2 separate regions of the Homo sapiens genome follow, and region 2 is linked to region 1. The links come from fine-mapping of genetic effects on gene expression. Tissue or cell type: iPS cells. Region 1 holds a variant in brackets; the other region holds the start of a gene. All regions are shown on one strand. Distances are between the middles of the regions.

The links. PIP is the estimated chance that this variant, and not a neighbour inherited with it, causes the effect.
Region 2: PEX7 starts here. The variant in region 1 is fine-mapped to the expression of PEX7 in iPS cells (iPSCORE, PIP 0.95).

The regions. Positions count from the first base shown.
Region 1 is chr6:136,899,079-136,903,342 of GRCh38, reverse strand. The region is part of intron 9 of PEX7 (peroxisomal biogenesis factor 7); the gene reads right to left. It also overlaps the pseudogene RPL7AP37. Among named protein-coding and RNA genes, the nearest start is that of SLC35D3, 21 kb to the left of the region's middle. The variant A/T (reference allele first, on the strand shown) is at 2,094.
Region 2 is chr6:136,820,653-136,824,784 of GRCh38, reverse strand. PEX7 (peroxisomal biogenesis factor 7) reads right to left here and starts at 2,193. Exons shown (of 10, transcript NM_000288.4): 1 at 1,990-2,193. The coding sequence starts at 2,119. RefSeq lists enhancers at 1,583-1,742, 1,124-1,856, 1,857-2,589, 2,473-2,622 and a silencer at 1,913-2,292.

The DNA of each region.
Region 1 (4,264 bases):
AAAAAAGAGAAAGAAAGAAAAGATTGTTTACCCAAACTTTGAAAAATACACACACAGACAGAGACTGGATGGGTGGCTACCACTGGGAAGGAGGGGTTCAGATTTGGGAAGAGGCTTCTGGAATGCAAGCGATGTTCTGTATCTCAACGTGGATAGTGGTTATACAGGGGTAGTCACTTCTGGATAACTAATTGAGCTGTACACTTAAAAATATGTGCATTTTAAAATATAAATTTACATTTCAATTAAATCTAAGAAACATAATAATATGGTAAAACAGAGATTTTTAAAAGAAACATAATAATATGGTATAAGAGATTCTTTCTCAAGTGGGGAAACTAGAGGTAATCTTTTTTCTTTCTTCTAAATGTAATTTCCAAAATTTTGTCATGAGGAAAACATTAAAGCTTATTAAACATACAGCAGCGACATCTGAAAGTGGTAGCGTTTACTTTAAAAGAGATTAAAATAATAAATAACTATGCCCCCAAAAGAATGTATAAAGATATGTAAACTTGTATCCAGCTTATAAATACTAAACTAAACATCACTGAGCATTTGGAAGAGCAGAATTGATACTGCAGAACACAAAGTCAGGAATTCTAAACTAATATAGAAATTCCAGTTATATAAATAGGTGTATTATAGGTCTAGAATCACAAGTCTACAAAAAGAAAAAGAGTATCTAATTTAGAAATAAGAAGGATAAGAAAGAAAAGATAAAATGTCAGAACTGTACAAATCATGATCAGAAAAAAAAAATTTTCAAAGAAAACGATGCCTTCAGCCTGGTTAACAAGAGAGGGCATAGAGCATTTCTCAGCAATTATCCTTAAAGAATGACCCCAGACATTTATTTGTCAAGTTTTAAACTTTTAAAGACAAGATCTTACATTCTGTTAAGAAGAAAGGTGGTGTAATATATGAATGCCCTTGACCTCATTTCTCAGATCTCTAAGAAAGGAGAAGCTAAAAAGAAAAAGAATTATACACAGAAGAACTCAGATAAATCTCTTTTAAGACTGAGAATATATAAAAACACAGAGCCTTAAAGTAACATCAGCAAGGTCCTACAGCTGCTAAGATCACAAAAGACAATAGGTATATGAAAGCAGATGGAAAGACACTAAGAGGTGAGAGAAAGATACTTTCTAAGGGAATAAAAAATGATCAAAGAGTAAAATTAAATTAACTTACAATCTGTAAATCTGACACATTATGAGACTAAAGGATAAATATAGTATGTTAAAAATAACTTGGCTGGGCGCAGTGGCTCACGCCTGTAATCTCAGCACTTTGGGAGGCTGAGGTGGGCGGATCACCTGAGGTCGGGAGTTTGCGACCAGCCTGGCCAACATAGAGAAACCCCATCTCTACTAAAAATACAAAATTAGCTGGGCGTGGTGGCACATGCCTGTAATCCCAGCTACTCAGGAGGCTGAGGCAGGAGAATTGCTTGAACCCAGAAGACGGAGGCTGCAGTGAGCCGAGATCACGCCATTGCACTCCAGCCTGGGCAACAAGAGCAACATTCCATCTCAAAACAAACAAACAAAAATAAAACTTAAACCACCTACTATACCAACACAGGTTAGTGTGGCAGATTTTAAGTGACTATGAATTCTTCACAGGTCCTCCCATCAAACGGTACAGTCTATTTCCCACTCTTTGAATCTGGGCTGGCCTTGCAACTTGCTTTGCAACAGAAGGAATGCTGTGTGGCTTCCAAGTCCAATTCTCAAGATGACTTGCAGCTTTTGCTCTTGCCCTCTTGTAAACACACAACTGTTAAGTGCAGAGACCTGGGCATACCTAGAGACACACGGCCTGGAAGACAACCAGCACTATCCACCAGACACATTGAACGAGGCCTAATAGGACCACCCGGCCCTAGTTAAGCCACCAGATGGCTGGAACCACATGGGTGGCCACAGGAAAGACCAAAAGAAGAACTGCTAGGGTGTGTCTGGTCCAAATTGCTGACTCACAGAATTGTGAGCAAATAAAATTGTTGTTTTACGCCACTAAGTCCTGGAAGTTGTTCATTACACAGTAATAGATAACTGACAAAAGTGAGAGGGAAAAACATGGAG[A/T]TACATGTAGAACTTGATTCATATCTCCCCTAGAAAAGAGTTTGATGTGACTTGTAAATATACAAATTATCTCTCTCCTATAGCTGCCCAAGATGCCGAAAGAAGACCAAGGGCAAGACGGGGCCCCAGCCCCTGCTATCTTGAAGCAACAGGCCAAGAAAGTGGTGAATCCCCTGTTGAGTAAAGGCCTAAGAATTCTGGCACTGGACAGGACATCCAGCCCAAAAGGGACCTCACCCACTTTGTGAAATGGCCCCACTATGTCAGGCTGCAGCAGCAAAGAGTTATCCTCTACAAGAGCCTAAAAGTGCCTCCTGTGATGAACCAGTTCACCCAGGCCCTGGGACCACCAAACAGCTACTCAACTACATAAGCTGGCCCATAATACAGACCAGAGACAAAGCAAGAGAAGAGGCAGAGACTTGGCCCAGGCTGAGAAGAAAGCTGTTGGCAAAGGGGATGTCCCCACTAAGAGACCACCTGTCCTTCAAGCTGGGGTTAACACCGTCACCACCTTGGTGGAGAAGAAGAAGGCTCAGCTGGCGGTGACTGCACATGACGTGGATCCCATCAAGCTGGTTGTCTTCCTGCCTGCCCTGTCTCATAAAATGGGGGTCCCTGACTGCGCTGTCAAGGGAAAGGCAAGACTGGTTCACAGGATGACCCACACCACCATCACCTTCACACAGATTAACTCGGAAGACAAAAGGGCTTTGGCTAAGATGGTGGAAGCTATCAGGACCAATTACAATGACAGACACGATGAGATCTGCTGTCACTGGGGGGGCAATGTCCTTGGTCCCAAGTCTGTGGCTCACACTGCCAAGCTGGAAAAGGCAAAGGCTAAAGAACCTGCCACTAAACTGGATTAAATGTACACGGTTGAGTTTTCTGTACATAAAAATAATTAAAATAATACAAATTATCCTTTGAAAAATATATAAATTAATAATATACACAACTCAAATGTTTGTGTTTAAAATACTGGTTGAGATCACCATCTTAATTTGAATAAAATCTATTACTTAGGGATGTATGTCCTCTGATTAAGTCCTCTCATCACAAAGTTGCTTTTAATAAGGTAGGCCTACTATGTGTGGAGGATTTAGAAAACATCTGGTATTCTTCAGACCTGGGCGAGGAAGCGCCATAGCTGAGGAAATGGAGGCGCTGCAGCTGCTGCCACAGGTTCTAGTCTGGGCTCACAGAGGACAGGTAATAGAAATATATAAGGATGAGGATTGAATGAATATTTACTTAGGATCCTTTGTTTGGGGTGCCATATTTCAGTATGTACACTGTAACTTTTTAAGACTAAAATAGAAAACAGGTACAATTATTTTATTAAAATCCATCTATAATAAATGTATCAGAAAAGGAACTAGTTCATTTGAAACACATTATATTTATGCTGAAAAAATGCCATTTCACTCATCACTATTTCAGTTTTTTCTCTTATATCCTATTAAGTCATTTTAAATGATTATTTCTAATGTTAATGGGAACATTCTAATACCAAATGAGAATCGTTTAAACTCAGAATTACATCTTTAATTCCTAAAATGAAAAACTCATAGGCTGAGAGCTCATGCCTGTAATCCCAGCACTTTGGGAGGCCGAGGAGGGTGGATCACTTGAGGTCAGGAGTTCGAGACCAGCCTGGCTAACATGGTGAAACCCCATCTCTACTAAAAATATAAAGATTAGGCCAGGCACGGTGGTTCATGTCTGTAATCCCAGCACTTTGGGAGGCCAAAGCAGGTGGATCACTTGAGGTTAGCAGTTTGAGACCAGCCTAGTCAACATGGCGAAACCCCATCTCTACTAAAAATACAAAAAATAAGCCAGGCATGGTGGCATGTGCCTGTAATCCCAGCTACTCAGGAGGCTGAGGCAGGAGAATCACTTGAATCCGGGAGGCGAAGGTTGCAGTGAGCCAAGATTGCGCCACTGCACTCCAGCCTGGGCAACAGAGCAAAAACTCTGTCAAAAAAAAAAAAAATTAATTGGGTGTGGTGTTGCATGCCTGTAATCCCAGATACTTAGGAGGCTGAGGTGGGAGAATTGTGTGAACCTGGGAGGTGGAGGTTGCAGTGAGCCAAGATTGCACCACTGCACTCCAGCCTGGGTGACAGTGTGAAACTCTGTCTCAAAAAAAAAAAAAAAAAAGA
Region 2 (4,132 bases), 78 kb after region 1:
TCTAAAACACATCTCACACAGGATTTTAAAACAAAATATGAATGCGGAGATACTTGGTGGGATTTACTACATAACTGGTGGTAATAAAGTGCTGAAAACAGTATTAATATGTTACCTGTCAAAGATTATTTTACCAAAGGGCCATTGTATTTTAAAAGTTATGTTTACTTTTTATAGAGACCAAGGGGGAAAATCTCTTCTATTTAAACATGACTGAATTTTTTTTTTTAAATACCAATTCCCTTTAAAGAGTTTTTGCATAAGATTTTAAGTAGCATTACAGGCCAGTCACAGTGGCTCACGCCTGTAATCCCAGCACTTTGGGAGGCCAAGGCAGGAAGATCGCTTGCACCCAGTTCCGGACCAGCCTGGGCAACATAGTGATACCCTGTCTCTACAAAAATAAAAAATCAAAAATTAGCCAGGTGTGATGGTACATGCCTGTGGTCCCAGCTACTGGTGAGGTTGAGACAGGAGGATCATATGAGCCCAGGAGGTGGAGGCTACGGTGAGCTGTGATTGCACCACTCTACTCAACCTAGGCAACAGGGTGAGACCCTGTCTCTAAAGAGAAAAAGAAAAAAGAAAAAAAGAAAACTACTACCATTATAGACTCATGAGTCTTCAGTCTAACTGGTGGGCCATGTAAATCTGAATGTGCAAGCACTAAGAGCTAATAATGAAAATAAATCAAGTATTTCTCTGAGTTTTAGAAGTAACATTTTTTTCTGCTGTAGGACAAAACAAAAAAATACAATAGACCACTGACATTATGAAATGAGTTTTTGCATCTCGCTTCAGTGCGTATAATAGCTAGGACATGAATTAAGGCAAAAGCGAGAATGAACCTACGCCTTTTCATCTAGTCCACGGACTAGATGGACTCTTTTTTTTGAGACGGAGTTTTGCTCTTCTTGCCCAGGCTGGAGTGCAATGGCACGATCTCGGCTCACCGCAACCTCTGCCTCCTGGGTTCAAACTATTCTCTTACCTCAGCCTCCCGAGTAGCTGGGATTACAGGCATGCGCCACCACGCCCGGCTAATTTTGTATTTTCAGTAGAGATGGGGTTTCTCCATGTTGGTCAGGCTGGTCTGGAACTCCCGAACTCAAGTGATCCGCCCACCTCGGCCTCCCAAAGTGCTGGGATTACAGACGTGAGCCACCGCACGGCGCTTGGCCTTTTTTCTTTTTAAGACGGGGTCTCAGTCTGTCACCCAGGCTGGAGTGGAGTGATGTGATCTCAGCTCACTGGGCTGGGGCAGAGTGATGTGATCTCAGCTCATTGTAGCCTCAACATCCCGGGCTCAAGCGATCCTCCCGCCTCAGCCTCCTGAGCAGCTTTAACCACAGGCTGAGCCAATGCGCGCGACGGGAGACAATTAACTGGAGTCTGTAACACCTACTTGCGAATGTGTGCATTCCTCGTTAGACAACTACAGGTAAGAACTGAACTTGATATATTTCATGGTGTCACCCGTGGGACTCCAGGCGTCCATTCAGGAGCATCGTCCTTAGGAAGGCCAGCCCGCAGGTCGCAGCTCAGTGCTCGAATGCAGACTGGGAATTGTGGGCCAACTCGCGAGCCCTGGGTCGGTTCTGGCTCAGACCGTCTTCCCCGTACTGCTGTGCCGAGCGGACCGATCCAAGGGACCGCGCAGGCTCCCCCGGCTCTCCCTACGGGGACGTGTGCCTGGGCGTGTGACACGTGGCGGAGGCAGCGCGGTCTCAAGGAACAAGGACACGGGCTACTAGGCTACACGTATATGCACTTGCACACAACTGGAAGATCGACTCCTGCTTCAGACCAACTCCTCGCACTCGGCAAAGAAAGGAGAAGCGCCGACCAGCGCCTCTTCTGCCCCCTGGCGTGGACCCGCGGAACCGTCTACGCTCAGAGGGGCTTTCCCTCGAGCGCGAGGAACTGGAGCCCGGCTGGCCCCCGCCTCCGCCTCCGCCCCCCGGCCCCAGCTGCGCGGCGCCGCCTCACCCGCGATGCCGTAGTGCTGCGCGGTGGCGCAGGCCAGGCGGCCCGGCAGGTACGGGGAGAACTCGGCGGCGTAGCCGTGGCGTCCCGGCGTCCGCAGCATCCGCGCCGCTCCACCGCACACCGCACTCATCCCGCCCGCCGCCCCCGGCCCTCGCTGCCCCGGCCGCGGAAGCCGTTCCGAGTCGGAGGCACACTGGCGCGGTTAGAGAGACCAGGCAGACCGGACGGAAGTGTGGGCCCCGTGCCCTGTGTTTGAGATTCTGATTGGTCCGCACAGGAAAGGGCGTTGACTCCGACGGAGACCATTTTTGTTTTGGGTGAATCCAAACTGAATTGCGCCTGCTGCAAAGATACAGATCTATCAGGGGAGTGATCCAGGGTTAGGTATTATTAATAATTACGACAGCTTTTGTCGTTGCATCTCAGCCTCCTCTGCGGTGCTATCTGGTTTTTATTTCATTGAGCGTTTGGAAGACTGGCATCAGGAACTTTTCCTGATGATTATAAAGTGAGAAAAGTTACAGCCGACTCTGAAACCACGCAGCGCGTCCAAAATTGCGTGCTGCGTTGCCCAAGGAAACTGGAAGCAATGAGAACTTAAGTCCGTGGAGTCACTGCGGTCTTTAGGAATAAGAGCGTGGGCTGGTGGGCTACTTTCACACTGTAACTGGAAAAGATGAAACACCAACTCCAAACCAACTCCCCATGCTTGGCAAGTGAGAAAAAGGAGCTGGCCAGTTCTAATGAAGCTAAGCAAAAAAGCAGCACATCATCATATACAACTTTTTTAAAAAGTATTACTATACATGTATATATTGTATGGTAATAAGTGCTCAGATGCTGGTGCTCATTCATTCATTTATTGCCAGGCATATACTATGTGGAGAATGACCAAATATAATTTATCTGCCAAACCAAGATACTTTTGAGAGTAAAGAGGGTGTAATTATTAAGCCAGGTCAACAGGCACAAACCAAGTCGTATGATCATCTTAACCATATACCAAGAACAGTACTAGGCATTTGGGATTCAAAATAATGGGATATGGTCCATGGCCTCAAGAGATTAGAGAAGAAGACTAAAAGAGAAGTCATGTAATTAGTTAAGTGTAATCAAAATACTGTAGAGGCTATGATAAATTTATATGGGGTATTTTTAAAAGGTGATTGTCCGTGCCAGAGGTATGGAAATTGCAGGAAAGGCTGCAGAAGAGAGATAAGTCTTTATGGTGATTGCACACAGATGAGTAGGTTTTCTTTAGGTAGACAAGAAGATGGAGATCTTTGTAGGAGCAGGAATAACATGAGCAACCCAGGAGATTTAAACCAGCATGATCCATAGGGGGTCGTGGCTGCCAGGACTCAGCCTGGCCAGATGGAAGGGATACGGTGAAAAAAATATTGGGTGGGGAGACTGTAGAGTGTTTTACTGGGGCTAGATCATGAAGAGTCTTATATACCATACTAAGAGAATTGGATTTCTACTGTAAACAGTGAAAAACAGTGGAAGTTTTCTAATGTGAGAAATTAAATGACCAAGGTTTTATTTTAAAAAGTCCTGCAACACTAATATGGAGGATAGAGTTTGGAGATGGGGAGGCCAGTTAAAAGACTTTTGCAGGCCGGGCGCGGTGGTTCACACCTGTAATCCCAGCACACTAGGAGGCCGAGGCAGGCGGATCACTTGAGGATCCAGACCAGTGTGGCCTCTATTATTTTGGATTTTTATCATATGTAGTCACTGGAATGTATGCTGCATGAGGGCAGAAATTTTTGCTTGTTATGTTCGCTGTTGTATCCCAAGGACCTGGTATTTAAGCATTCAGGAAATGTTGAGTGAATGCAGCCTAATACAGTGCCTAAATGATCAGTGTGTTTTTCGTAATACTACAAAAAGTAACCTGGAAACATTCTGGAGTTTATTGAAATGCTAAATAGGCGTTAATAAAATATCAAAGTAAGCAAACATGAAGCAGCTGGGACCTTGGCAAAGAGTTGTATATAAAGAGTTATCCAATCTAAGCTAAAAATAGTGTGGTATCTCTGGGAGGGAGAAAGGCTGGTTCCAGCTGGGGTAAACTATTTACAGTGACCTTGGACATACACACACACACACAAACTGAGCTATTACCTGCTCCTTACCT